Regions from separate parts of the Homo sapiens genome. Here regions 1, 2, 3, 4, 5 and 7 are each linked to region 6. Evidence: fine-mapped expression QTL. A gene starts in region 6. Each other region holds a variant in brackets. All regions are shown on one strand. Distances are between the middles of the regions. Region 1 overlaps GSAP (gamma-secretase activating protein). Region 2 overlaps GSAP (gamma-secretase activating protein). Region 3 overlaps CCDC146 (coiled-coil domain containing 146). Region 4 overlaps GSAP (gamma-secretase activating protein). Region 5 overlaps GSAP (gamma-secretase activating protein). Region 6 holds the start of GSAP (gamma-secretase activating protein). Region 7 overlaps GSAP (gamma-secretase activating protein).

Region 1 (4,067 bases), 39 kb before region 6:
AGGTTGTACAATAGGCCAATTGGAAGCAACCATCTTTTACAAGACATAGATGACTGAGTAAGGAAGGAAGGAAGGCCTGGGTGTCTTTAGAAGGAGAGCAGAGGGCAGGAGGGGTAAGTGCAATTCTTGCAATGGCATAACAATCTGTATTAGATAGCAACATTAGTCCTACTCAAGAAGAATAGGCCGGCATGGTGGCTCACGCCTATAATTCCAGAACTTTGGGAGGCCAAGGCAGGTGGATTGCTTGAGGCCAGAAGTTCAAGAACAGTCTGGCCAACATGGTGAAATCCCATCTCTACTAAAATATAAAAATTAGCTGGTCATGGTGACAGGTGCCTGTAATCCCAGCTACTAGGGAGGCTGAGGCAGGAGAATTGCTTGAATCCAGGAGGCAGAGGTTGCAGTGAAGAGAGATCATGCCACTGCACTCCAGCCAGGGCAACAGAGTGAGACTCCGTCTTAAAAAAAAAAAAAAACAAACAAAAAAACAACCACCATATTGTTCATCACAAAGATATTAAGAACACTTCACCACAATTCTAATTTTTTTTAATCTTTTTTTAAAAAATTCAAGTTCTTAAATTGAAATTTTCCTATTTTTAGAAGTTTTTTTCCACTGATAGAACACAATGCTAACATTCCAAATAGCTTTTTCAGGGGTAACGCTAGATTTTGGTTAAACTATACCCTCTCATTGACTTGTCTCTTTATTCTCAAATCCACCATCCTCACAAGTCCTTTTGGGTCAAATAACTTATAACCCCTTAAAGCTATCTCTTACAGACCCCATCAATTATTAGGTTGGTGCAAAAGTAACTGCAGTTCTTGCCATTACTTTTAAATGATTAGAAACTGCAATTACTTTTGCACCAACCTGACACCTTCTACTAATCCCCACTTACACATTTTTCTTTGATGTGAAGCATTTAGTTACTGGACATTTCTGGTGTGTGTTCTTCTAATGACCTACATTAACTGGATTTGTTATAGAGTGGAAACCTGGAGGTGGCAAGAACTAATTTTACTTGCTCATACGAGTAACTAACACAACCATCAGGAATGCTAAAGCGCTGCTTATGATAACAATTCTCTTAAAAGAGAGTAATCTATAGGCTGGGCGCAGTGGCTCATGCCTGTAATCCCAGCCCTTTGGGAGGCCGAGGCAGGTGGATCACGAGGTAAGGAGATCAAGACCATCCTGGCTAATACAGTGAAGCCCTGTCTCTACAAAAAATACAAAAAAAATTATCTGGTCGTGGTGGCGGGTGCCTGTAGTCCTAGCTACTCAGGAGGCTGAGGCAGGAGAATGGCGTGAACCCAGGAGGCAGAGCTTGCAGTGAGCCGAGATCGCGCCACTGCACCCAGCGTGTGCGACAGAGTGAGACTCCATCTCAAAAAAAAAAAAAAAAAAAAGAGAGTAATGTATCATAAACTTTCCTGTAGTGTGATCATTTTCTGGACTTACCATTAAGTTATAGCTCTCATCAGCATAAAACTGGATACATTTTAAGATACTCCTTGATTTCTAAAAGAGAAAACAGAATGGCATATTAAAAAACCAGGAAAAAAAGAAAAGGAAGCAGTCAAGAAGCAAAACTTCACTATTTCCATCAATGAAAATGTAATGATTAGTGAACTGCAGTAATAATAATGTCAAAATCAAATTGTTCTTATAAAAAAGAGTGCTGGGGCCAAGCACTATGGCTCATGCCTGTAATCCATGTTTTAGGAGCCTGAGGCAGGTGCATCACTTGAGCCCAGGAGTTCAAGGCTGCAGTGAGCTATGATCACACCACTGCACTCCAGCCTCAGCAAGAGAGCAAGACCCTGTCTCTAAAAAAATTAATATTTTTGTAAAAAAAAAAAAAAAAAAAAAGGAGTGCCCGTGAACTAGTTTTTTTACCTTCAGGTCAATGTAATATAATCTCTGTTCTGACATATCCCACTGAGCCCAAACGAAATCCTCAGCTATTCTGTCTCTTGGGAGATGGCCAGAATTTTTAATCACCTAAAAATG[CAA/C]AAAAAAAAAAAAAAAAAAAAGTATGAATAACTTTTAAAGGAGAACATATCTGGAATTCATAATTATTTTCCATGTCTATCTTTATGATACATGTAAATATTTCCACAGTTCACTGTTAGAAGCTCCCCACCCCTAGTATACACAGTCTTTCCAGAAATGTTTTAAGACATAATTTCATTGCCTCCTCTTCTTCCCACGTATAATATATGATTTTATTCCTGCTCTTAGTTTAGCAGACAGGCTGAGGCTGTTGAAGACAACACCACACCTCCCACAAATCAATAGCTGCATTAATAGAAGATTCGGAACTTACTGTTCTGTACCTAACTCTCTTAAGTCAAGCCTCTGCAGACAAGAGCCCTCCACTACCAAAGACAGAGGCTGTGATGCCAAGGAAAAACTCAGGCCTGACAGTGGAAAGTAGTAGGCAATGACCCCAATTTGGCCATAAACCAACCATGCAGCTTTGGGCATGCCTCTCACCTTTATGTCTTCCATGATGAGTATGATGATATTGCCCATCTCTCAGCAATACTTAACTACTCATTCTTCAAGACCTGACTTACACATTGTGTTCTACACAAAGCCTTCCCTCACATCCCCAAGATGTAGTATAATCCTCACCTGTTTTCCAATGGTGCATTGGCATGCTGCTTTGACAATTACATTTTAATTAATGCTATAAGCCTCCCCCAGTGAGTACGCACTCTTCTACAACACGTTTCTATTACCAATGCATTGACTGTTTCTAGCATGTAACAGTGCTCAAGGAATGTTTGTTTGGAAGGCGGAAAATGGGCTGGGCACAGTGGCTCATGCCTGTAATCCCAGCACTTTGGGAGGCCGAGGTAGGTGGATTACCTGAGGTCAGGAGTTCAAGACCAGCCTGGCTAACATGGTGAAACCCCATCTCTACTAAAAAAATACAAAAATTAGCCAGGCATGGTGGTGCATGCCTGTAATCCCAGCTAATCAGGAGGCTGAGGCAGGAGAATCGCTTGAATCCAACAGGCGGAGGTTACAGTGAGCCAAGATCCCACCACTGCACTCCAGCCTGGGTGACAGAGCAAGAGTCCATCTCAAAAAAAATAAAAATAAAAAACAAAACAAAAAACAACAAAAAAAAACAAAGGCAGAAAATGAAATAAGGTGTGCAAGAGTAAATTTGAAATATTTGTTTACTAAGTAACAAAGTCAGAACTATGGAACATTAAAATCAGGAGATTCTAGAAACCATGCAATTCAACCCCTTAACAGGTAAGAAAACTGAGGTCCTGAGCAGTTAGATTAGGCTGCATAGTTAGTTCTGCAAGGTCTGGAATCCACGTCCTGGAATCCTCCCAGTGCCCTTTCAGTGCATCAGCTGACCTCGAAATAATTTAACAGAAGCAGTTAAGAATTAACTTTCCTCAAAATGCTTATTAAGCAAAAGTAATCTACATTGAGGTAGATGAGTAAAGAATAAGGACAGGTTAGGGTAGAAGAAATGAGGAAAAAAGGAAACACCAGAATGGTCCATATTCATGCCTAAACCCTCCCTAATCCTAATAGGGATTTCTCCACCGATGGTAACTTGCAACTTGAGGGGGGCCATGTGGCATAAAGAGTTGTAAACCACTATTTCCGCTTACCCTGTCCATTATATTTAGACAAGAGGAAAGTGATGCCAGAGAAAAGATCCAAGAGGACCTGTCTGTCTCTAAACCTTGGACAATCATTTTTCTGAAATTTGTTGAGTTGGAGTAGATCTGAGAACCGTTCCAGGTAAAGGTATGTACTAACAAGAAAATGAATGTCAGATTGTGGCATACCCAGGTTCAAATCTCAGTTTTGTTCCTCTCTAGATCGAGTCACCTCACCTCTGTGAGTCTTGGTTGCTGTCTTCTCTGTAAAAATAGGGATAAGCCTAATACCATCTCTATCATGCAGGGATGTTGCAAAGAATATGTGGAATTGCATATTCTTTGCAACATCCCTGCATGATAGAGATGGTATTATACTTATGCTGTGTGAAGCTGTCATCTAAGCCTTTAAGAATGAAGGC
Region 2 (4,067 bases), 74 kb before region 6:
TTCAAATCGGGTAGGCAGTCTTTTCACTCTCTTTTCCAGCCTCTCTTGCTACCCTTCAATCTCCCTGTCCTTCCAATTCCAGTTATTTTTCCTCTCTAGTAGAGACAAAGAAGACACATTTTATCCGTGGACCCAAAACTCCGGCGCCAGTCACAGACTCGGGAAGATAGTCTTCCCTTGGTGTTTAATCGCTGCGGGGACGCCTGCCTGATTATTCACCCACACTCCATTGGTGTCTGATCACCGTGGGGATGCCTGCCTTGGTCATTCACCCACATTCCCTTGGTGGCAAGTCAATTGCGGGGATGCCTGCTTTGGCTGCTCACCCACATTGCAGCCCAGGGCTGCTCACTACCCCCACCCCTTCTCCGTGTCTCTACCCTCTCTTTTCTCTGGGCTTGCCTCCTTCACTATGGGCAACCTTCCACCCTCCATTCCCCCTTCTGCTCCCTTAGCCTGTCTTCTCAAAAACTTAAAACCTCTTCACCTCTCACCTGACCTAAAACCTAAGCATCTTATTTTCTTGTGTAACACCGCTTGGCCCCAATACAAACTTGATAATGGTTCTAAATAGCCAGAAAACAGCACTTTTGATTTCTCCATTTTACAAGACCCGGATGATTTTTGTTGAAAAATGGGCAAATGGGTCTGAGGTGCCTGACTTCCAGGCATTCTTCTACACATTGGTCCCTCCCTAGTCTCTGCTCCCAATGTGACTCATCCCAAATCTGTCTTCTTTCTCTCCTGTCTGTTCCTTCAGTCTCCACCCCAAGCTCTGAGTCCTTGAATCCTCCTTTTCTACAGACCCATCTGACCTCTCCCCTCCTCCCCAAGGCTGCTCCTCACCAGGCCAAGCCAGGTCCCAATTCTTCTTCAGCCTCCACTATCCCACCCTATAATCCTTTTATCACCTCGCCTCCTCACACCTGGTCTGGCTTACAGTTTCATTCCACGACTAGCCCTTCCCGACCTGCCCAACAATTTCCTCTTAAAGAGGTGGCTGGAGCTAAAGGCACAGTCAAGGTTAATGCTCCTTTTTCTTTATCCGACCTCTCCCAAATCAGTTAGTGTTTAGGCTCTTTTTCATCAAATATAAAACTCAACCCAGTTCATGGCCCATTTGGCAACAACCCTTAGATGCTTTACCACCCTAGACCCAGAAGGGCCAGAAGGCCGTCTTATTCTCAGTATGCATTTTATTACCCAATCCACTCCCGACATTAAATAAAGCTCCAAAAATTAGATTCCGGCCCTCAAACCCCATAACAGGACTTAACTAACCTCACCTTCAAGATGTACAATAATAGAGTAGAGGCAGCCAAGTAGCAACATATTTCTGAGTTGCAATTCCTTGCCTCCACCGTGAGAGAAACCCCAGCCACATCTCCAGCACACAAGAACTTCAAAATGCCTAAGCCACAGTGGTCAAGCATTCCTTCAGGACCTCCTCCCCCAGGATCTTACTTCAGTGCTGGAAATCTGGCCACTGGGCCAAGGAATGCCCACAGCCTGGGATACCTCCTAAGCCGTGTCCCATCTATGCGGGACCCCACTGGAAATCAGACTGTCCAACTCGCCCAGCAGCCACTCCCAGAGCCCCTGGAACTCTGGCCCAAGGCTCTCTGACTGACTCCTTCCCAGATCTTCTTGGCTTAGCGGCTGAAGACTGACGCTGCACCATCACCTCAGAAGCCTCCTGGACCATCACAGATGCTTTTGGCAACTCTTACAGTGGAAGGTAAGTC[T/C]GCCCCCTTCTTAATCAATACAGAGGATACCCACTCCACATTACCTTCTTTTCAAGGGCCTGTTTCCCTTGCCTCCATAACTGTTGTGGGTATTGAAGGCCAGGCTTCAAAACCCCTTAAAACTCCCCCAACTCTGGTGCCAACTTGGACAACATTCTTTTATGCACTCCTTTTTAGTTATCCCCACCTGCCCAGTTCCCTTATTAGGTCAAGACATTTTAACTAAATTATCTGCTTGCCTGACTATTCCTAGGTTACAGCCACACTCTCATTCTGCCCTTTTCCCTAGTTCAAAGCCTCCTTCGCATCTCCCCTTGTATCTCCCCACCTTAATCCACAAGTATAGGACATCTCTACTCCCCCCTTGGCGACCAATCATGCACCCCTTACCATCCCATTAAAACCTAATCACCCTTACACTGCTCAATGCCAATATTCCATCCCACAGCACACTTTAAAAGGATTAAAGCCTGTTATCACTTGCCTATTACAGCATGGCCTTTTAAAGCCTGTAAACTCTCCTTACAATTCCCCTATTTTACCTGTCCAAAAACCAGACAAGCCTTACAGGTTAGCTCAGGATCTGCGACTTATCAACCAAATTGTTTTGCCTATCCACCCCACAGTGCCAAACCTATATACTCTCCTATCCTCAATACCTCCCTCCACAACCCATTATTCTATTCTAGATAAACCTAGTTGACCCCATAGATCCTAAATCCTTTCCCCACTCTCCTTTCCATTCCTTAAAAAACAGCTCCCACACTAGCTCTCCCTAACTTATCACTCCCTTTTCATTACACACAGCCAAAGTGCAGGGCTGTATGGTTGGAGTTCTCACACAAGAGACGGGACCGTGTTCTGCAGCCTTTCTGTCCAAACAACTTGATCTTACTGTTTTAGCCTAGCCTTCATGTCTGTGTGTGGCAGCTGCCGCGCTTTAATACTTTTAGAGGCCCTCAAAATCACAAACTATGCTCAACTCACTCTCTACAGTTCTCATAACTTCCAAAATCTATTTTCTTCCTCACACCTGACGCATATACTTTCTGCCCCCCTCCACTACCTCTCAGCAAGCCGAACTCATTGCCTTAACTCAAGCCCTCAATCTTGCAAAAGGACTACGCATCAATATTTATACTGACTCTAAATATGCCTTCCATATCCTGCACCTCCATGCTGTTATATAATAGGCAAAAAGAGGTTTCCTCACTATGCAAGGGTCCTCCATCATTAATGCCTCTTTAATAAAAACTCTTCTCAAGGCCACTTTACTTCCAAAGGAAGCTGGAGTCATTCACTGCAAAGGCCATCAAAAGGTGTCAGATCCCATCGCTCAAGGCAACGCTTATGCTGATAAGGTAGCTAAAGAAGCAGCTAGCATTCCAATTTCTGTCCCTCACTGCCAGTTTTTCTCCTTCTCATCGGTCACTTCCACCTACTCCCCCACTGACTAACTTCTACCTATCAATCTCTTCCCACACAAGACAAATGGTTCTTAGACCAAGGAAAATTATCTCCTTCCAGCCTCACAGGCCCATTCTATTCTGTCATCATTTCATAACCTCTTCCATATAGGTTATAAGCCGCTAGCCCATCTCTTAGAACCTCTCGTTTCCTTTCCACCGTGGAAATCTATCCTCAAGGAAATCACTTCTCAGTGTTCCATCTGCTATTCTACTACTCTTCAGGGATTGTTTAGGCCCCCTCCCTTCCCTACACATCAAGCTTGAGGATTTGCCCCTGCCCAGGACTGGCAAATTAATTTTACTCACATGCCCGGAGTCAGGAAACTAAAACACCTCTTGGTCTGGGTAGACACTTTCACTGGATGGGTAGAGGACTTTCCCACAGGGTCTGCGAAGGCCACCGTGGTCATTTCTTCCCTTCTGTCAGATATAATTCCTCGGTTTGGCCTTCCCACCTCTATACAGTCCAATAACACACAGGCCTTTACTAGTCAAATCACCCAAGCAGTTTCTCAGGCTCTTGGTATTCAGTGGAACCTTCAGGCCCCTTACCATCCTCAATCTTCAGGAAAGGTAAAATGGACTAATGGTCTTATAAAAACACACCTCGCCAAGTTCAGCCTCCAACTTAAAAAGGACTGGACAATACTTTTACCACTTGCCCTTCTCAGAATTCAGGCCTGTCCTCGGGATGCTACAGGGTACAGCCCATTTGAGCTTCTGTATGGACGCTCCTTTTTGTTAGGCTCCAGGCTCATTCCAGACACCAGCCCAACTTGGACTGCACCCCAAAAACTTGTCATCCGTACTATCTTCTGTCTAGTCATACTCCTATTCACTGTTCTCAACTACT
Region 3 (4,067 bases), 130 kb before region 6:
TTGTTTCCTCCCCATATTCTCCATTCAAGGAGGGGTCTTTCTCCTGGCATGATTACAAAGGATAGATTTTTGCCTGTTTATGGGGAAATCACAACCAGAAATATTCAACTTGAGAAGAAACTAATGGGCCTAGCAACTTAATATAGAGCAGACTCACACCAGAACTACATTCCCTGGCCCCCTGCCTGTGTGCTTCTGGCCAGGCCTTGGTTGGCAAGTCTGACCCGAGAAAAGGATCTGCAGAAAATCAGACTATGGGATCACTTTGTTTGTGCATTGGGAATGACATTCTTTCCCACCCCAGGAAAACCTTTGGGACTTTCAGAGACATTGTGGCTAGCCAACCACATGGTCAGCCTCAAAGTTGAGAGGCTCAGTAACCCTCCTATCCCTAGAGAATTCCAAAGTGTGGATGTAATTTAACTAGAAAGCCATTGGTGACTATCTGTGATCCTCTGGAAGTATGCTATGTTGTGTATATCTTGCATCCAAAGCCAGAGGGAACCACAATGACTAGTAAAACGGTGGTCTCAATGCCCACTTAGCCTCTGCCTCTGAATTTGACCATAGTGGCGTTCAGCTGATAGAGCGGGAAGAAGAAATATGCATTTTTTATGAAAAAATAAATATCCAAGAGAAGATGAAACTAAATGGAGAAATTGAAATACATCTACTGGAAGAAAAGATCCAATTCCTGAAAATGAAGATTGCTGAGAAGCAAAGACAAATTTGTGTGACCCAGAAATTACTGCCAGCCAAGAGGTCCCTGGATGCCGACCTAGCTGTGCTCCAAATTCAGGTGGGTGAGTGATCACGGGACACTTCCTCAGACCATTTATTTTTTTCTGCCTTTATTAGTTTGTGGGTGAGTTCTTGCATGTAAACCAAGCCATACTATTTCTGGGACCTATAAGAATCCATCCATCTTGTTTAAAAATACATTTGAATGCTACTCTAGGATGGAATCTGTGCTTCAGGCATCCAGGCTACACATTGTCTTTTTTTCTTATGAAGCATTTTCTGCTTTTCTTGGAATTTGAAGACTCCCAGGACTTATCTCTAGCTCAGCTTCCTCATAGCTCAAAATTTAGTGATCTAGACTCTCACTACCCTCAGCATAATTATGTCGTTGCTGCTTGCTGGACAGATCTTGAGGATGAGCCAGCACTCTTACTTTTGATACTCTGGCCCCCAGAGCAAGAGATTGTCTGGAGATTGTTGCTTATTAGTAGTTGTCAGTTACATATAACTTGATTCTTTATTAACCACTGTAGTTCTATGATAGCTTAGTAACCTGGCCTTTGACATGGCCTTTTTTAAAGTGGAATAGATCCAAAAAACTAAAACATGAAATAACAAAATAAATAAAATGTGAATATAAAGTTACTTTCTTCACATGTGTTACTTGGGGTTTATTCTTCATAGAATTTTTTTAAAAATTAAAATAAAAACTGTGTAGCCTAAACTTGTTCCCATTGACCAATGTAGCAGGAACAAATTCTAACCTATAATATTTTTTTTTAAATGTCAGGTTTGCGTTTGGATTTTTTTTCCTGATAAAAAGTTAAGACATTTGGTGAATGAAATTTTGTAAAAGTATAAAAATTATAAAGAAGAAAATAAAATTCTACTCCCAAGATATAATTGCTATTAAAATTATCAAAAATCTGGGAGACATCTTGTCATTTATTTTCTAGGTATACAAGTAAATGTTTTTCATTAGCTCATGCCCTAGACAGTTTTAGATCCCCCTTTTTTTTAATCATGTGAAGGGGATTCATAGGATTTCATGGGACTAGATGATAGATCTGCTTTCATATTTTATGCCATTTGAATGTGTATATGCTGTATAGATAATAGCCTCTTTCAGTTTGCACAAATATGCCAATGTTCTGATTCCAAGTTTGTTTGTTTTTTTAATTTAGCCTTGAGTTCTTCCACTCATTTCTTCAGTAAGTGTAGTCAGATTGAGATCGATTGGCTAGAAAGTCCCCCTAAACTCCCACAGGCCTCCCCAGGCTTCCTGTGGCTCTGACTCCTGCTTCCAACAAGGTTCATTTGAGGGATCACCCATCAGCCTGCACACACAGTGCCTGTGCCACTTCTGTGCCATGTCTGCAAAGGCACGGAACTCACCCCTTCCTCAGGCTACACCTACACAAGACCATTCA[A/T]GCGAGGCCTCTGTGGACAGACTTTATTAAAGATGTGGGGCAATGGTATGTGGGGTTACATTACAGAAATGCAAAGCACTTCAATTTGATATCAGATATCCATACTCTTCTTGGGGGCACTGGAGACGCTTCCCTGAGCACTAATACCTTGTACCACACCCTTGCCTAGCTCGATTTCACTGGCTTCTCTTTCACCTCCCCTCTCCCTCCACAGCCTCCTCATCCCAGATTGCCCCCAGGAACTCCATGCTTGCCCCCACTCCATTTTACAGAAGAATTTGTCTCTCTCCAGCTTTTTCCCAAAATGAAGATTTAGGTCCATCTTTGCCCATCCTAAACTATCAAGATGCAGAGCAACACAAAAGATCTTTAAATTCAATAAAATCTGCAACAGAATAATTTCCTCTCTATTGTATAAGCATATTCTTTGTGTTCACTGCAAATCAATACTTCCATTCAGTGGATAAAATTGTTCTTAGAAAAAAAATTGTCATTTTATTATATAAAACCTATTATCTAGTATGAAATGTAAATTCACTTTTACCCAAGAAGGAAATATTATGCATTTCATAACACTACACTCCCTGCCTGATGGTGAATTTTGATCATTTTGATTGCACATGAACTGAGACATGCAGACTGTGTTATCAGTTATCTGCTCTACCGGAGTGAATTCTGATTATCTGCTCAGCATCAATCATGTGTACCCTTGAAGGATATGATGTGAAATTTCTAGCTTCAGGCAAGCCATTTCTGTGCCCTGTTCTGCAGTGTCAGATCCCGGTCATATCCTGTCATTTTTTACAGCCACAGTGTCTTGGGGTTTGTTTTTTTTTTAAGTCTTCTCCCTTTTTTGCATCATTTTCAGAATTCTCTTAAGGTTTGCATTTTTTTCGGTCGTCCATAACAGTTTTTAATTGTCCAACAATCTAATCCAAGGATTATCATGAGTCTGTTCTCCTGGTTCCTATAATGATAGCTCAATTTTAGGAAGTTATATGAACTATTTTGGGACACAAGGACACTATTTTACATAGACAGAGTAAACAGTTTTTCCTCAAATGCCAAGGGAAAACTAAAATTGAGACATCCCTTTATAAGCAAGCACTATATTTTTGTTTCTTATTTAGTTTCCTAATTAAGAAAAGGGAACATTAAGTATTGTTAATAATAAATACAACAAATGCTTGATTACATATGTATGTACACTTCAATTCTATATTAAGGACATTTAAGGGATGTAGATACAGGAAAAAGAAAAATGTTAAATTATTTGTCAGCATTTGTAATTATTTTTGTAGGGAGGAGGAGCATAAATTAAATTTTAAAAATGCTACCTGTATCAGTCTTAGACATGTTGTAAAATACCATCAATATATTATCTCATATGATGGATCAACCCCATGGCACTGAGCCTTTTCTTCCCATTTGACAAGTGAGGAAACTAAGGTTTAGAGAAGATAAATGATTTACCTGAGATTACACAGGTATTCAGTAGGAAAACTGAAAATAATGCTTGTTGGTTGTCACCATGCTCCGTATCTCTCTCCCTATAAAACAAAAACTAAGTGTGGCTACCATTCCTATTTAGGAGTAGCCATGTTTCTTCATTCACCACCAAAATCTCATTGATTCAACAAATAGAGTTGATACATATGACACTATATTAGGGATTTAGCAGAAAAAATACAAATAGCCCAAGCTGTTCCTCACAGAGTGTACATTAGGTAGATTCAATAATTAAGAATGTTTTTCTCTTTCTTTGGGAAGCCATTAAACCTATTGCCAGCCAAGTGTTTTGAAATGAAGTCCAGTGTGTTGTATGTGAGTTACCCTGGTCTCTGTAACAACCTGCAATGAAGAGGTGAAGGCTGTGTGTTAGTTCATTTGCATTGC
Region 4 (4,067 bases), 96 kb before region 6:
AACACTCATTAGAACTTTATATGCAATAATAAATCCATTCATGTTTAGGCAACTAATCTTCAAAAGCACCAAGAACACACAATGGGGAAAGGATCGTGTATCTCTGATAAATGGTGTTGGAAAAACTGTCCATAGGCAAAAGAATGAAATGGGACCCTTATCTTTACCATAAACAAAATTCAACTCAAAATGCATTAGAAAGTTAAACATAAGACCTGAAACTGAAAAACCCCTAAAAGAAACATAGAGGGAAAGCTTCTTGACATTGGTCTTGGCAATGATTCCTTGAATATGACATCCAAAGCACAAACAATGAAAACAAAAATATGTAAGAGGGACTACACCCAACAAAAAAGCTTCTGCACAGCAAAGGAAACGATCCTGGGCCTGTTGTGGGGTGGGGGGAGGGGGAAGGGATAGCATTAGGAGATGTACCTAATGTAAATGATGAGTTAATGGATGCAGCATACCAACATGGCACATGTATACATATGTAACAAACCTGTGTGTTGTGCACATGTACCCTAAAACTTAAAGTATAATAATAAAAATATATATGTATAAAAGGAAACGATCCAAAGAGTAAAGGCAAAACCTACAGGATGACAAAAAGTGTTTGCAAACCATATATCTAACAAAGAGTTAATATCTAAAACATATAAGGAACTCAAACCTCAATAGCAAGAAAACAACCAGATTAAAAAATGGGCAAGGGACTTGAATAGACATTTCTCCAAAGATTGCAGACAAATGGCCAACACTTATGTGAAAATATGCTCGACATCACTAATCATCAGGGAAATGCACATCAAAACCACAATGAGGTATCACCTCACATCTCTCAGGTTGGCTACTATCAAAAAACCACAATTTAAGTGTTATCAAGAATGTGGAGAAATTGGAATCCTTATACACTGTTGGTGGGAATGTAAAGTGGTACAGCCACTGTGGCGAACAGTATGGAGGTTCCTCAAAAAATTTAAAAAAAAGAATCAATATATGATCCAGTAATCTCATTTCTGGATAAATATCTGTAAGAACTGAAATCAGGATCTTGAAGAGATATGTATATACTCCCATGTTTATCACAACATATTCACAATAGCCAAGATAGGGAAACAACCTAAATGTCTACTGACAGATGAAGAAAGTGTAGAATTTACAATGGAGTATTACTCAGCCTTAAAAAATGAAATCCTGCTCCATGTGACAACATGGATGAAACTTCAGGTCATTACACTAAGTGAAACAAGCCAGTCACAGGACAGATACTGCATGATTCCACTTACATGCAGTATCTAAAGTAGTCAAACTCATAGACACAGAAGGTAGAACAGTGCTTGCCAGGAACCGGGGAGTAGGGGATAAGTAATTGCTGTTCAATGGGTATAAAGTTTCAGCTATGAAAGATGAGTAAGTTCTAAAGACCTGCTATCCAACATTGTACCTATATTTAACAATACTGTATTGTGCATTTAAAAATTTGTTAAGAGGGTAGGTCTCAAGTGTTCTTACACAATAAAAAAATGAACTGATATGTAATGAGCACAAGACAGTTTATAGCTAACAGGGGCTTATTTCTCATAATGGATACTGATTTCTATGTACATCTTCCCAACTAGACTCTTACTAATCTTTGTAATTGCTCTAATTTCTAGCACGTTACCGGTCATGTCATAGTTGCTCAACAAAT[A/G]TTTGTTGACTAAATGAACAAATGACCAATTAAATGAATGACTGCATATACATCTCCCCAGGATGTTTTGTGGCCTGACTTGATCCTATTTAAAAATTCCAAGGGAATTTTTTAGCCTCCAAGCGTATAAGAATCAGTTCAATTCTTGGCACCAAGCCAGACCGACTTCCCAGTGTTAATCTTCAGACATCTCAATCAGATAAACTAGGCCTGGAGACATCAGAGACAGAGCTCCCTGAATTAGTTCTACTAGTTCAAATTATCCTAGAAAGCTGCATGGGGTAAGCCTAGGTTCCCTAAAGTTAGTAATAAGCTACATCATAGTTTAGTAGTCAGAGGAGCTCTGGTCAGCAGAGACCAACCTAAGGGCCCATCACTCACAGTAACACCAGATACACAATTTCTCATACACAAGTCTCATCATCAAACTTATAATGTACCAAAGGCAAGGGCCCATATGAAGAAGAAATAAATTTATTATACCAAAGGACAAAAGAGCCAACACTTACCAGGAGGCAGAGGTAAAAACAAACTGTTTGTAGCTTCCAGAATCCTGGTCATGATGTGAAAAACTGCAAATTCAGCAGCACTGCCACGACTATTGCTGGGTAAAAAAAACAAAGCAGCATGTCAGCCAAGGAGCTCATCTGTGATGCTCCATTTGTCCTAAGCAGTGGCTTTGAGTACTACACAAGGGTTCATGCTAATCATGAAATGCTATGCCTTGTAGAAAGCCCCATAAATATGAATGTGACCATCGGCCTAATGCCTAGAATTTAATCAGAGTAGGAACATATGTTACACATTGTATTAAGTGAAATTCCCCTTCTTGGCAGTACTGGGCTCATTTGTCCCTCCCCTGTCACCAACCATGTGCCAGGGAAAGAGGATGGGTAAAGTAACGGGCATAACTTTGTTTTAATTTTAGCTTTTATTATACATTAAAGGGTACATATGCAGGGGGGCATAACTTTAAATGCTGAGTATAGAATTAAGCTAGATGGTGTTGAAGCTGGTGAGAACTGATTTGAACTAGTGCATTTCAAAAGGGTTTTGCTACAACAGAGTTGTTTCCACTCTTTGTACACCATGATAAAAGTGAGAAATACTTGCGTACAAGTGGAGAACCCAGGAATGAAGATTATGTTTCCTCCAATTGGTTTCTACGATGTGGCAAATGAGATCCAGCTGGAGGGTGAAGACAGTCCATTAACCATTGCTCCATTCCTTCCCTCAAGGGCCCCACAGCTAGGCCTCCACAACTCAGATAAGCATTTCAGGGCAGCTGGCATTCAGGCTGCATCCAGACACACAACTAGCCTTTCTGAGGTCAATTCTGAAGCACTGAACCCAAAATAGAAAGACTGAAAATGTGCACCAGAAACTAACAAAGCATCCTCTGTTTGTGTGGGCAGTGCCCCAGCTCAGCCTCCCCAGCCCAGCTAACTGGCCCCACCACTCACACTTACAGACCCCCATCCATCAGTGAAGGTAAAGTGCTACAGGGTTTGCTCCAGGCCTGTCACAACGCAAGAGCCAACAGTGGACAGTCAGAAGAAAAGAGACACAGAATGGAGGTCATGATCATGAGCTGTGAAGTAAGACTGGTATCAAGTCCAGATTCTATACATTACTAGTTGTGTTACCCTACACAAGTTACCCACCCTCTCCAAATTGCAGTGTCCTCATCTGTAAAGTGAGGGGAAATATTTCATAGGGTTTTTGTAAGAATTGGTTAGCACACTGACTGGAACTAATCAACCAAAGTAGGTAGCCTTCTTTGTCTTAGAGCTTTATCCAGAAACCCATTCTAACGCTGCAACGAGTTTGCCAGCAGAAGAGCAGTCCCTATGGAGTTGTTATCAGCCACGAATCCACACATTGTGTGGGCTAAAAACGGGGCAAAGCAGAAGGATCTCCATAGACTCACAGGCAAACGCTATCCTTGATACAGATCCTCAGTTTCTCTTTGGCTGAAATTAAGTAAGTTAACATGTAACCAATATAATCAGGTTCTGCAGCAACTTCCTTGGATATGTTTTAGAAAGGATGCCAGCCACTCTCCTTAGAGGGGAGCAGAAGGCATGACTAGTGGCTGCTGGGCAGGGGCAGGGAGATGTGGCCTCAATCAGTGACTGCTGAGTCAATGTCAGGGACCTTGAGTTTTCTGAGACTTCATATGTATCGTTTCTGGGCCTATTGGTTCTACAGGCTGTTAACACAAACTAGTGTTAAAACTTATGTTATTAACAATGGAGAAAAATGACGCTTGAATGGAAACCCTTCTTAGCACTTTGGGAAGTAAGATTTCGAGTCAACAGAAATAAAGGTGATAGGTGGATGTGTTAAATCACTGTGTGTTGTGAGTTTTTTT
Region 5 (4,067 bases), 65 kb before region 6:
AGGGAGTGTTTTCTGCACAGACAGAAGCTGAGGGCAGCTTCCAGCTTCTAACCTCTACTTTAAATAAACCTTGGAGGGCATAAATAACAGTGAATATAGCCTATCTCTTGCCTCAGGAAAGGACACATTCTTTAAAGTCACAATTATAATAGGTGACAGGGTCTCTAAAGTAAAGGAAAAGACTATTACAAAGAAATAGAGAGCAAATAGGGTATTTTTATACATTTCTATTAAAGAACGAATGAGGCAAATTATGTTTGCACCAAATGTAACGATAAAGGGGAAATGTTTCATTATCAATACTCCTTCCTCTCTCTTCTTTCACTTAAATGTATTATAGTTGGCCCCTACCTCACTAGAAGGAATCAAGACTAACAGGATTCTTGCATGACTTGACTGGGTAATTTTTCTGTACCTCATTGTCCTCTGTAATTTCAGAGGTAGGAGCCCCCCATACCCAAAGGACTATAAATCATGCTGCTATAAAGACACATGCACACGTATGTTTATTGCGGCATTATTCACAATAGCAAAGACTTGGAACCAACCCAAATGTCCAACAATGATAGACTGGATTAAGAAAATGTGGCACATATACAACACCATGGAATACTATGCAGCCATAAAAAATGATGAGTTCATGTCCTTTGTAGGGACATGGATGAAATTGGAAATCATCATTCTCAGTAAACTATCGCAAGGACAAAAAACCAAACACTGCATGTTCTCACTCATAGATGGGAACTGAACAATGAGAACACACGGACACAGGAAGGGGAACATCACACTCTGGGGACTGTTGTGGGGTGGGGGGAGGGGGGAGGGATAGCATTAGGAGATATACCTAATGCTAAATGACGAGTTAATGGGTGCAGCACACCAGCATGGCACATGTATACATATGTAACTAACCTGCACATTGTGCACATGTACCCTAAAACTTAAAGTATAATAATTAAAAAAAAAAAAAAAGTTTCTGCAGCAGCCAGGTGCAGTGGCTCGCGCCTGTAATCCCAGAACTTTGGGAGGCCAAGGCTGGCAGATCACTTTAGATCAAGAGTTTGAGACCGACCTGGCCAACATGGTGAAACCCCGCTCTACTAAAAAAAAAAAAAAAAAAAAATTAGCCAGCCATGGTGGCAGGCGCCTGTATTTCCAGCTACTCAGGAGGCTGAGGCAGGACAATCACTTGAACCTGGGAGATGGAGGTTGCAGTGAGCTGAGACTGCACCATTGCACTCCAGACTGGACGACAGAGCAAGACTCCGTCTCCAAAGAAAAAAAAGAGTTTCTGCAGTGCTATCATCATGGCAAATCTGAAAGGTGAACAATTCATTTCAAGAAGGGCAAATGATAGCATTCTGCTAACTAGTGAGTGTTAAAACAGAAATTTAATAAAAGGATAAACTTTCAAGATTGCCTTTTATTCACTATTATTTTGAAAAGTGTATCTGTATGTTAATTATGTAATTAGCCTCTCATCTGGTCAAATCAGCTTTCATTTCCTTAAAAAAAAGTAGATAAGTATATAAGAAAATATTTTAGGAGATGTAATGTAGAAATAAAAATTGATATTTGTCTATAATTTAAATGACCGAGATTTTACTGATATAGAATATTCCTGTAAAAAAGGGTATCATGGGGACAGAGAAATAAGTTTTCAGAACATGCAAACAACTAAGTTCTTCAATGTGACAGTTGAAAGCCGTGATAAGAATCTATTGTGTGCTTCATTTATCACTACAGAGGATACCTCAAAAAAAATTAAAATTTCATTACAGTTTTGGTTATAAATAGCATTTTAAAAGAGGTATAGTTGTTTGCAAAACATAATTCAGGATTATCTATGTGTAAGGGCATCACATTTTCTATTATCTTAAAAAATCCAAGTCAGTTGTCTCCTACAAAAATGTGAAATCCATGTTTTCGCCTGTGGAAACTTTTTATTAAGGTTGTAGCATTAAGAACATTTGCAGATAAGAGAAAAATAAATGATTTGCATCACAGCTAATGATAAGCATAGACTGATAGATTTTCAAGATTAGAAGAGACCTTTAAGGTAACCTAGTCCAACCACAAGAAGTTTAAAGCAACATGGCAAACCCCAAGATTAGTTCAGTACAGGGAGGTTATAACCACAGGTTTCTTTATATCGCTCTTCTTGGACTTCCTGATGTCACCCTGTGCGTGTCCACAATAGCTGCTCCACCCTGCACAATCTTGAGAAGTGCAAAAGGGAAGCGTTACCCTCAGGGTGATATTCTCACACCACATCCAATTAACATGTGGCTCAGTCTTTTAACACAACCCTGGGAACCAGTGGTCCCAGCTGCCTCCTGGACACTTTGAACACAGGACATAACAGCAGGGGGTTGGTAAGGGAGGGAGCGGAGATGTGCATTTCCTGACTCTGGGGTGGTGTAACCTGCAGACTTCCTGCCATGTGACCACAGGGTCTGCATGTCTATTCACATGTGTTCCAAAAGAAAAACGTGGGTGCCTAGAGAG[G/A]GAACAAGTTCAGGCCTTTCTTTCCCTTAAATTCTAAGGTGGGGCATAAAAGTCTAATAACCACGACAGTAAAAGACAAAGAAAAGGCCTTTAGGAAAGCACTGCCACTGTGCATACCAAAAATTTAGAAATTAATCAAACACACTTGATACATCTTTTTTAAGGACTATATTTAGACAGGGTCTAAACATAAAGTGTCACCATTTACTCTAGTACATATTTTCCTATGACTGTGTTATTTAAATTCAATTTATTTTTCTAAGTACCTTTTTGATATAAACTTCTGCCTCAAAAGCAAGCATGTAGTTCTAATATCTAAATAAGAAACATGAGGCAGAACTTTTTCAGGCACAGCCTATGTACGGTTTTCACTTGCTGGGCCAGCAAAGCTCTGTCTACTGTACCATATTCAAGAGAAAATGAGCAGTGTTTTAGCTCAGCACATCCTAATTTAAAAGGAGGGAGTCAGAACCGACAGGGAGAAAAAGTCATTTGGGGTGAATGTGCCTAAGATTGCTGACTTTTACTGATCCTGAAGCTCTAGAGTTATTACAGACTTTTTAATGGGGCTGGAAAAAGGGGTCGTGAAGGTCCTTATCTACCAAGTATGATAGCAGCAATCCACCCATTCCTCACTTATAAAAACTCAGTACATATTTTAATCCACTCTAGTCACTTAGAAAATAAAAATACCATGATAGAGGTTTAGTTCTGCCTGGTAATAGGAAGAATAATAAATACCCTGTGTACCTGCTCCTTTGGTTTTACTGTTTTTATACAAATACTTTTGGCCAATAGCAGGGATTTGCTATTACTTTTCTGCCAAAAAAAATTCAACTGAGTTCTTTATCAGTCAAAACAGTAGTGAAATCACGACCTTGATGGCTATAAGAGAGGTGTCCAACAACTGACCCACAACTGTGAATTGATTTTATTTGCATACAGCATACACAGTGTTAACTTACTGTATTCCAAGTGAGCACTGAGGAATGTGGCAATAGTTTGTCCATGTTACTTGTCTCTGAATATACACTCCAGTATGAAGAAGCTGAGTAGATTTTTTTTGAAACAGGGGGAAAAAAGATGTGGTTTAATAAGATGATGACAGCATTGTAATGCAACCAAAACACGCAAACCAACAAAGTTTTCATTGTCTTATCCCTCATCCTCAAAACGGTAACCATCATGATTTTATCTACTGACTAAAATGTTCAGGTTCTGCTTTTTACAATGAGAAGAATAACTTAGTACCATATCTACCCAAATGACATTATATCATTTCATACGAAACCAGCCAACACAAAACTGGGCTAAGAAAGTTACATCTTACTGGAAAAAAAAATCACTAATAAGGTTATAGAATCAAGATCCTATCTTGTATCTCATCAATCTCTGTACAGCCATAGTTTCTTAGAAAACCACAAGAGAATGAAATTTAATTAGCTGCTGACTCCGATAGAGTTTTGTTTTTTTTTTTTAATGTGCTCCAAAGTAGCATTTGGACAGGTTGAGGCATTCACTATCAATTTACTGCTTTCCCTCAAGCAAAAAGGTCAAGT
Region 6 (4,067 bases):
GGGTCACACACAGCTTTTCAAGCACGACACACATTACGGAAACATAAGACTGTGGCATTTCACACTCATCTAACTTCTCATTTGCAGACACCTGCCATTTAGCAAAATAAAGTGGGAGTCCAGAAAAAGGAGTACTTGGTAGTAGAAGACAGAGCTGCCTGTTGTATTTCAAAAAGTTAAGCCTTCAAAAACTTTTCAGACATGTGGGCGACTTTTTTTTTTTTTTTTTTTTTTTTTTTTTTTGAGACGGAGACTTACTCTGTTGCCCAGGCTGGAGTGCAGTGGCGAGATCTCGGCTCACTGCAACCTCTGCCTCCCAGGTTCAAGCGATTCTCCTGCCTCAGCCTCCCGAGTAGCTGGGATTACAGGAGCGTGTCACCACGCCCAGCTAATTTTTGTATAAAATTCTTCCTTGACCACCCTCTCCACCTCGAAAAAAAGTAAAGCCTTACTAAGCATGACACTAATGCAAACTCAATGCATACGCTACACAAACATATAACTCCTTATTTGGAGCTAATAATATTCCAAGCCAAGGAAACCTACAAATAATTTCGCTATAGTCATAGGAGAGTGTGAAGATACAAGATAGCAACTTGATATATAACTCACATCAAGAAAACTTTCACCAGCGTTTAAGGGAAAGGAGTTGTAGATGTGGGTCATTTAATACCCACTTCCAAATTCACTGAAGTGGACAGCGCCCTACACACAAGGTGAGACCTACAGGCATCATTGCTTTGAAGCTGCATTTAAGCTCTGAAGCTCCAATATTTATAGAAGACTTTTAAAACTTTGTAAGAAATCACAAAGTTCCCCTTCTTTAAAACAGATCAGTGCTGGGAAGGCTCAAAAGTCACTTTCACTCCCTTACCAAATCATCAAAAAGCCCGGAGTGGCAGGGCCGGGAGCCGAGCATCTCGCGCGCAGCCCCAGCCTGCACAGGTGCGGAGCTCGGGGGCGGCTGGGGGCTCTCGCCCCGCCGCGCGCAGCCTGGAGGCGGCCCCTGCCCTCTTGCGCCTCACCGCCGAGGCCCATGTCCCCTGAGCCACGGACACGGTTCAACAGACACATAAACACGTCTCGCAAATGTGGGGACAAACTGTTCCACCGTTAGGTATAGGGTGGTTTGCTTGGTGGTCACGGATTCTTTCTCAAAACGTGAAGCTTCCAGGAGCACTCCTGTCTTGGCAAAGCCCCTGCGCTGCCGATGAACCCCCCGGGAGGTGGGATGCGGCCGCTGAGCTGAGCACGACCCTCTGCCCTCGCCGTGAGGTGATGCTGAGGGAACCGCCAGCGGCCCGGCCCCTCTGCCAAGGGCGAATTTCCGCGGGCCGGCAGCGAGCCAGGCGCCTCAGGCCCCACGGCGACCTGGCCCGGGCTCTGCCCCCAGACCTTCCGCCGTGGCTGGGTGTGGGTGGCAAAGCCAAAACAGCCCTCTGAGGAGGGGAGCGACGCCCTCGCACCAGCCTTCTCAGGGCGGCGACGCCCCGGGTTGCTCCCCACCGGGTCGGAGTCCGGGGGGTATGAGGGACTCCCACTCCCCGCCCCCACCCCTCTCCGCAGCGCGCCTCCCGCACCTGCGCCGCCGCTTCCGGCCCCGCTGGCCTCCGACACTGCCCGCTGCGCCCGCAACCACGGGAGCACGTCCTTCCCGAGGTCGAAGTCGGCGACCAGGCGAAGAGCCATCGCCCGGACACGACCACCGGGCGGCTCTGGGGCCCCGCACCGCGGGCATTCCCGGCCCCGCGTGGCCGCCTCGCCCTCGCGTCCCCGCTCCCGCCCCCTCTTTCCTCTCCCCCGCCCCCTGCTGCTTTCGGTTCTGCAGCGCCCTGGCCTGAGAAGCTCCGGCACCAGCTCCTCCCGGCCGGCGGCCCGCACCTGAGCCGGAGCCGGAGCCGGGCACGGCGGGTAGCGGTGGGGCGGGGTGGACCAGGCGCCAGGACCAGGCCCGCCGGGGCGGGAGGCCTCCGCGCGCACCTTCGGGGCTGAGGATAGAGGGCGCAAAGACGTGGGCGCTTCAGGGCCTTGGCGAGGCCGCTAGCCCAGTGGCTTCCAAACCTGGAGGGTCGGCCTATTTTCTTTATTCTACAAGTGCCTCCACTGTGCAGCAAAGTGTGGAAACCACTTGGCTTGAGAGAGCTGGGTCCTCTGGAGCAGTTCAGGGTCACCACAGAAGTAGGCCGTCTCTTGGGCCTATTCGCCCCAGCTTCGAGGTGGTGGTGCTTTATTAGTGTTATTAAGGTAATGAGTAGCAACTGGGAGCGTATGACGAAGGTGATCCCATTGTAAGAGAAACGCTAAAAGGGGTTAATGCGCTTGATACAAACAGCGTCCTTTTTGCCTTTTAACTCTAGTACATCTCATTTGATGCCTTGAGACATGAAAACTGAATCTTAAGTCTCCACGCAAACCCTCTGCCTCCCACCAGGGTCTAACAGAGCACTCTGGAAGGTGCTCGACAATTACTGAAGAATGAGTGAATACAGTAATAAAGAATGCTTTTTCACATGCTTCCGAAATTAAGGTCTGAAAACTACTTGTATTGACGTCATCTGGGGCACTATTTTACAATGCAGACTCCTGATCTCTACACCTGGACAAGACCAGAAACGTGCATTTTACCCAGAGCCTCGGGTGATTCTTAGGCTTACTAAGTTTGAAAACTACTCCAACCAAATGTAAAAGAAAGTCTTGAATTTTTTTCCCTCCTAGAGACATGTTTCTCCAACTGAGGTAATGGATGATTTCAGGTAGAACTCCATTACTCACCACCATATACAGAGGAAAGTCCTCCCACCCGGGAAGTGCATGCAAATTTAAGATAAATGCCTAATGAAGCTGCTAATATTATCAGTGAATAAAAGGAAGGCCACTGGAGCCCCCAAGGAGCTAATGCAACTATTTCATATCAAATAAGCTTGTTGCCTTTGTCATACAGAAACACTGTTGGCCAATTTTTTAAAGTCAGTACATTTCCATTGTTTTTATTTTTGCAGTTAACTTCTATTTTTGCCAGGCAGGACTGATTTTATAGTCAAGCAGTGATGATATAAAAAATTCTCTTCAAATTAAGTGAAAAAGCCAATGTAAAGAAGGTGAGAAACAATAAGATAATGATAGAAAGATGTGGCCAAAATCATGAGGGTGCTATATGAAGGCATGTGTATCAGTTAGGATTAGATTCTCCAGAAGTTAATAAGAACTCAGATTAACAGTAAATTAAACACACAAGTTTTATTCTGTCACCTAGCTGGACGTAGGCAGAATAAAGCTCTTAGGGCAGGTTCCTGAATTTATCAGGGACCCAGGCTCCTTCCAGTTCTTTGCTCCACCTGATCCTGAGTGTACCCTTGTCCTCATGATCAAAGAGGGCTGCAGAAGCTTCAGCCTTCACGTCTGCATTCCAGAAATCAGAATGGAAGAAGAGGAATAAAAAGAGGATGCTACCTCTCTTTTAAGGATACTTCCCGGAAGTTCTACACAACATTTCTACGTATGTTTCACTCACCAGAATTTAGTCACATGGCCAAATGTAGCTTTCAAGGGAGGCAAGGAAATATACCTGGCCATTGCTGTGCCCAGATAAAAATCAGGACGGTATTACTGAAGAAGGTGGGGAAAGTAGATATTCAGAAGCAATTAGAGATCTCTGTCAGAGTATGATACCCGATTCCGGCCACTGAGTTGTAAGGAAACCTCTGCTATGACAGATTTCTCTATTCTTAAAACAAGAGACATGGGAAAAGATGGTCCCTTTCAGTCTTTAACTATTTCGGGATCTAGATATGATTGCTGGAATTTCAGCCATCTAGCACACTGAAAATGGAGTCATTGGAGTCAGGAGAGTCCAGAGAACTGCAGAGAAGAGAAACCTTGGTAAATTATTTTTGGAGCCATCCTCTGCCCTTTCTGATATTAGAGATGTTGAATTTCCTATTGTTTAAATGATATTCAGTCAGACTTTTATTTTACTTGCAACCAAGGGTTTCAATTTTAAGGAGTGATCATTTCAAAATTTAGGGCACAGGCCAAAGAGCACTATAATAATAGGTTTGTGTTTGAAC
Region 7 (4,067 bases), 90 kb before region 6:
CCACCTCGGCCTCCCAAAGTGCTGGGATAACAGGTGTGAGCAACAGTGCCCAGCCATGTTTGCCATACTATTTTAATGGCTGTGCAATATTTAATTTTATAAAAGTACTATAATTATTTCCTTCTTGTATATGTGAGATTTTTCTTTTACTATTGTTGGCATATCTAAACTAACCTCTCCTAATATATTAAAAACTATGAAACTCAAACCTTACCATAGAAATTCAAATATATTATGTAGAAACAACACTAATGACTGCAATAAAGGCAGAAAACTTGAAAATTAAACCTAAACTAATAAATAGATTATCCCATTCTTAAGTCCACATGGTATTAAAAAATATCTTATTAGGCTTTCCAGATGTCTCTTTAATCAGCTTTTTAAAGGTTTTGGATTTATTTACAAATTCTGCTTTTCAATTGAAAATTTATTTTGATTCATATTTTTTTGGTCATCCTAGTATTATGACTTCTTGAGAAAAAGTACTTTGTTCTGTTGTTTTTATGTTGTTGTTTTGTGTTGTTTTCTGAGACGGAGTCTCCCTCTGTCGCCCAGGATGGAGGGCAGTGGCGCAATCTTGGTTCACTGCAACCTCCACTTCCTGGGTTCAAGCGATTCTCCTGCCTCAGCCTCCTGAGTAGCTGAGATTACAGGTGTGCACCATCATGCCCAGCTAATTTTTGCATTTTTAGTAGAGACAGGGTTTCACCATGTTGGCCAGGCTGGTCTCGAACTCCTGACTTCAGGTGATTCGCCCACCTTGGCCTCCCAAAGTGCTGGGATTACAGGCATGAGCCACTGTGCCCGGCCTGTTCTGTTGTATTTGAAACCCCAAATACAAATGCCACAAAGATGCAGCTCTTTCCTTTTTTAAAGCACTCTCAACACTATACACTCCTTTTATCATGGTTTGTAAATTACATATGTATTGGTGTGATGCATGTGTGTCTTCCCCCTTTGACTACACATTCCAAGAGGGCAGAAATCATATGGGTTGCTTACCACTGGGCACACAAGGTCCATAATGCTGGCAAAACATACTTGTGCAAAGAATAAAGAATAAGATCAGAATGAGAAGCCCACTGTAATCCTTTCCCCTTGTCTTAGGGTTCCTTGTTTGCCAGCCCCTAAAGAACCCACGTACCACTTACCAGCCCCATGAGCAGCCGCTGGTGGCTGTCTTCCTCCTGCAGGAGGGGTGTTAATCTTGGCCCTGAAATGAAACAGAGCAATAGTTAGGCTCTGAGCAGTTTTCAGGAGATGGGTTAGAAGGAAGAAGAATCAGCCTGGGTTTCCCTTCTCTGAGTCATTGAGAAAACATAACACAGGATGAAAATTTTTCATCACCTAAGTGTGACCTAGTCCTACAAGGTGAACTTATCAGAGCTGTGTGAAACAGGGAATGACCGAGAAAGAAAGAAACCAACACATTCCTCAACCCCAGTAGGCTCTAGCTTTGATTTTTGTTCAACACTAAAACTCACTGCTAAGAACCTCTGCTCCACTGGAAACAGAGGGACTTGGGCCTTCTCTTAACCCTTCTGGGGTCATAAATTGAGGGAACAGCGCTCGGTGGAAGGACTGCATGGCTCCCTTCTACTTTCTGAACCCTGTAGTTCAGTAGCCTTGGGAGTTACTGAGCTGAGGGGGCCAGTCAATTACTGCAGCAAATAATACTAACTGGCACAAGTTATCAGACTACAAAGGTAGTTAGGTAAAGGTGGAAAAGTGATATGTTAAATCAAATGGTACCTTCTCCACCATGATTTGCAATGCACACTACAGTGTAGTGGCCCTAGGGGCAGACAAACCCAGTCTTGCTGGAAAATCTGCCCCAAAGCGCTTCTAACTTCTTTGTATTCCATTCTTTTCTTCTTAAATACTTGAGATCCAGTGCCAGGCAAGAGGGCAGAACCACCCTGCTCAGTGGGCTGGCAACTCCTTCTGGGAGGGCATCGATATCTCTTGACCCCCCGGGATAAATCTTCCCTGGATCCTACACAACCCTCGTGATTGAGATGAAACAATTTAACATGTGAATCCAACAGCCCTGCATTTCACAGAATGTTCTGTTTCAGGCAGTGACATTCTTTATGGGGAACTAGTATACGCAAAGCACGTGCAAGGAAAGGGAAGAGTTTCCTAAAGTGCATTAAGATAGACTGACTAGTAACAGGATGCAAACGGCCCTGACACATACAGTAGCTCCATAAGCAGGGCAGGAGGGGTGGCACGACAGAAACCTCAGCCAGACCAGCAAC[G/A]TTCCCCGTGTTGCGAAACCCCCAGCAATGCAAGGATGATAAGCCTGAAACACACACACACATGCCCGTGTCTGGCAGGGCAGATCCCCTGGCTTCAGGGATTGATGGCCTGGTAAGGCAGAGGCTGGTTCCTCCTGGGCTGGTCAGTGAGCCCAGGCTCTGTCAGCCTAAGCTGGATGACAAGTGCACTGTCACAGTTCACTGTGCTGTGTGCACAGCTGGAGGAGGTGCAGCAATGCACTGTATAAAATAGTTTCCATTAGAATCACCCAACATCCAAGCCCATAAAACAGGAGTGGGATATAAAAACAAAAGCTTATTTAATGAAGGCTGACCTTCATGAGGCACGAAAGTGTTCTTCTGGCAACTACAAATAAGCCTGTGCCTGAATATGCTCAGCATTCCCCTCCCCTGGTTTCACTTGGCCAAGTCCCCTTTGTTTATCAAGACTTAACTCACCTGTCAGCCCTCTGGGGAGCCTCTTCCAACCTCCCTCCCTCCTCCAGCCATCCCCGCTCCTAACCTATCCTCTCACTCCCCGCACCTATGGATTATATAATACCTGTCATTTGGTTTAGAAGCCACATGTTAACATTTCTTCTTTACACACTAAGGAATAAAGCAGCCACCTCAGGTACCCTCATGTGCTAAGCACTATGTTAGGTGCTATCTGCATTACCCCATTTAGTCTCATTTTCTCCTCACTCCCCTAAGGACAGTGCACAAATGGGTAAGTGACTTGCCCAGGAGCACATGGTTCACACAAGAGGCCATGCTGGAATATAAGTCCAGCTCTGTCTAGCTCTCAAGCCTGTGCTCTTTCCCCCAGAACCACACTGCTTACCTGGAAGCTCCTCATCTTTATGCCTCTAGGACCTGTGTGCCCAATTTTTAACCCAAATGAGAGGCACAAACAAGGCAAGACCCGGTAGGATCAGACAGCTAGAAAGCAAGCAGCACCAAGCCAAGGGAAATGCCAAAATGCATCCTGTGGGCACAGCCAGAGGGCAGCTCTGTATGACAGGAAATAAGGAGAACCGCAAGGCCATCACCCAGGGACTCCCATCGCAAAAGCACATTCAGCAGCTGTCCCCGGAGGTCCTGGTGCCTAGACAGACATGGGAAGAGCCGTGCGGCCACTCTAACAGCAAGATATTAAAAGGTGCTGCCTGCACCACACTACTGGAAGTGATTCTCTTGCCAACCCACAGTGGTAGGAAGAACAGTGCTACAAACAAAACACTGACTGGAACCCAGAAGGCTTTATTACAGATCTTTTCTTACCCAAATTTCTTGCTTCTAGGTTAGAAATCACCCTACGAAGAAATTAGCCATGTTATTCACAGACAGCATTGCTTTTAAAAAATTTAAAGCCACATCATACAAAGATATCCTCCTTTAAAAATTCATAAAAACCACTGTAGAAACTATTCTCAAGCTGCTGAAAACCTCAAAAACTTTGATCAATGTAGTGAAAGCCACATTAGGCAATTAAAAAATCTCAAAACCCTTTAGTGCCAACAACGGCAATAATTTAGAACAACTGTAGCTCTCAGTTATTGAAAATAATGGGGACAGAAAATAGAACAGAGGTTGGAATGGGGCCTATACTTTTAGTACTCTGAGATGACTCATATATCCAGAAAATAGGCTTTCAAAATAAAAGCAAGCTCACTAGCCCACTGACACTTTAAAAAAAAAAAAAATCAACCTACTATTTGCCTTTCTCTCCTAAAATGCTAATAGGAAATTTCTTTACCAATTATCCATTGTAAACATCTATCCGCAGGTTACAAGTCTATAAGG

The links. PIP is the estimated chance that this variant, and not a neighbour inherited with it, causes the effect.
Region 1: its variant is the best candidate, but not a certain one, in a credible set for the expression of GSAP in NK cells (Gilchrist 2021, PIP 0.64).
Region 2: its variant is the best candidate, but not a certain one, in a credible set for the expression of GSAP in whole blood (INTERVAL, PIP 0.51).
Region 3: its variant is the best candidate, but not a certain one, in a credible set for the expression of GSAP in thyroid (GTEx, PIP 0.66).
Region 4: its variant is the best candidate, but not a certain one, in a credible set for the expression of GSAP in whole blood (INTERVAL, PIP 0.83).
Region 5: its variant is the best candidate, but not a certain one, in a credible set for the expression of GSAP in whole blood (TOPMed, PIP 0.90).
Region 7: its variant is the best candidate, but not a certain one, in a credible set for the expression of GSAP in caudate (GTEx, PIP 0.69).

The regions. Positions count from the first base shown.
Region 1 is chr7:77,375,380-77,379,446 of GRCh38, forward strand. GSAP (gamma-secretase activating protein) reads right to left here. Exons shown (of 31, transcript NM_017439.4): 9 at 1,907-2,011; 10 at 1,469-1,528. Among named protein-coding and RNA genes, the nearest start is that of GSAP, 39 kb to the right of the region's middle. The variant CAA/C (reference allele first, on the strand shown) is at 2,021.
Region 2 is chr7:77,340,504-77,344,570 of GRCh38, forward strand. All of the region lies in intron 19 of GSAP (gamma-secretase activating protein), which reads right to left. Among named protein-coding and RNA genes, the nearest start is that of GSAP, 74 kb to the right of the region's middle. The variant T/C (reference allele first, on the strand shown) is at 1,746.
Region 3 is chr7:77,281,987-77,286,053 of GRCh38, forward strand. It overlaps CCDC146 (coiled-coil domain containing 146), which reads left to right. Exons shown (of 19, transcript NM_020879.3): 15 at 571-799. Among named protein-coding and RNA genes, the nearest start is that of CCDC146-AS1, 35 kb to the left of the region's middle. The variant A/T (reference allele first, on the strand shown) is at 2,172.
Region 4 is chr7:77,318,523-77,322,589 of GRCh38, forward strand. GSAP (gamma-secretase activating protein) reads right to left here. Exons shown (of 31, transcript NM_017439.4): 25 at 2,811-2,881; 26 at 2,203-2,297. Among named protein-coding and RNA genes, the nearest start is that of CCDC146-AS1, 72 kb to the left of the region's middle. The variant A/G (reference allele first, on the strand shown) is at 1,694.
Region 5 is chr7:77,349,471-77,353,537 of GRCh38, forward strand. GSAP (gamma-secretase activating protein) reads right to left here. Exons shown (of 31, transcript NM_017439.4): 18 at 3,474-3,556. Among named protein-coding and RNA genes, the nearest start is that of GSAP, 65 kb to the right of the region's middle. The variant G/A (reference allele first, on the strand shown) is at 2,509.
Region 6 is chr7:77,414,633-77,418,699 of GRCh38, forward strand. GSAP (gamma-secretase activating protein) reads right to left here and starts at 1,717. Exons shown (of 31, transcript NM_017439.4): 1 at 1,581-1,717. The coding sequence starts at 1,689. LOC101927243 (a long non-coding RNA gene) reads left to right here and starts at 566. Exons shown (of 5, transcript NR_110073.1): 1 at 566-716. RefSeq lists silencers at 883-1,172, 1,233-1,442, 1,663-2,012.
Region 7 is chr7:77,325,061-77,329,127 of GRCh38, forward strand. It overlaps GSAP (gamma-secretase activating protein), which reads right to left. Exons shown (of 31, transcript NM_017439.4): 22 at 3,546-3,577; 23 at 1,152-1,213. Among named protein-coding and RNA genes, the nearest start is that of CCDC146-AS1, 78 kb to the left of the region's middle. The variant G/A (reference allele first, on the strand shown) is at 2,262.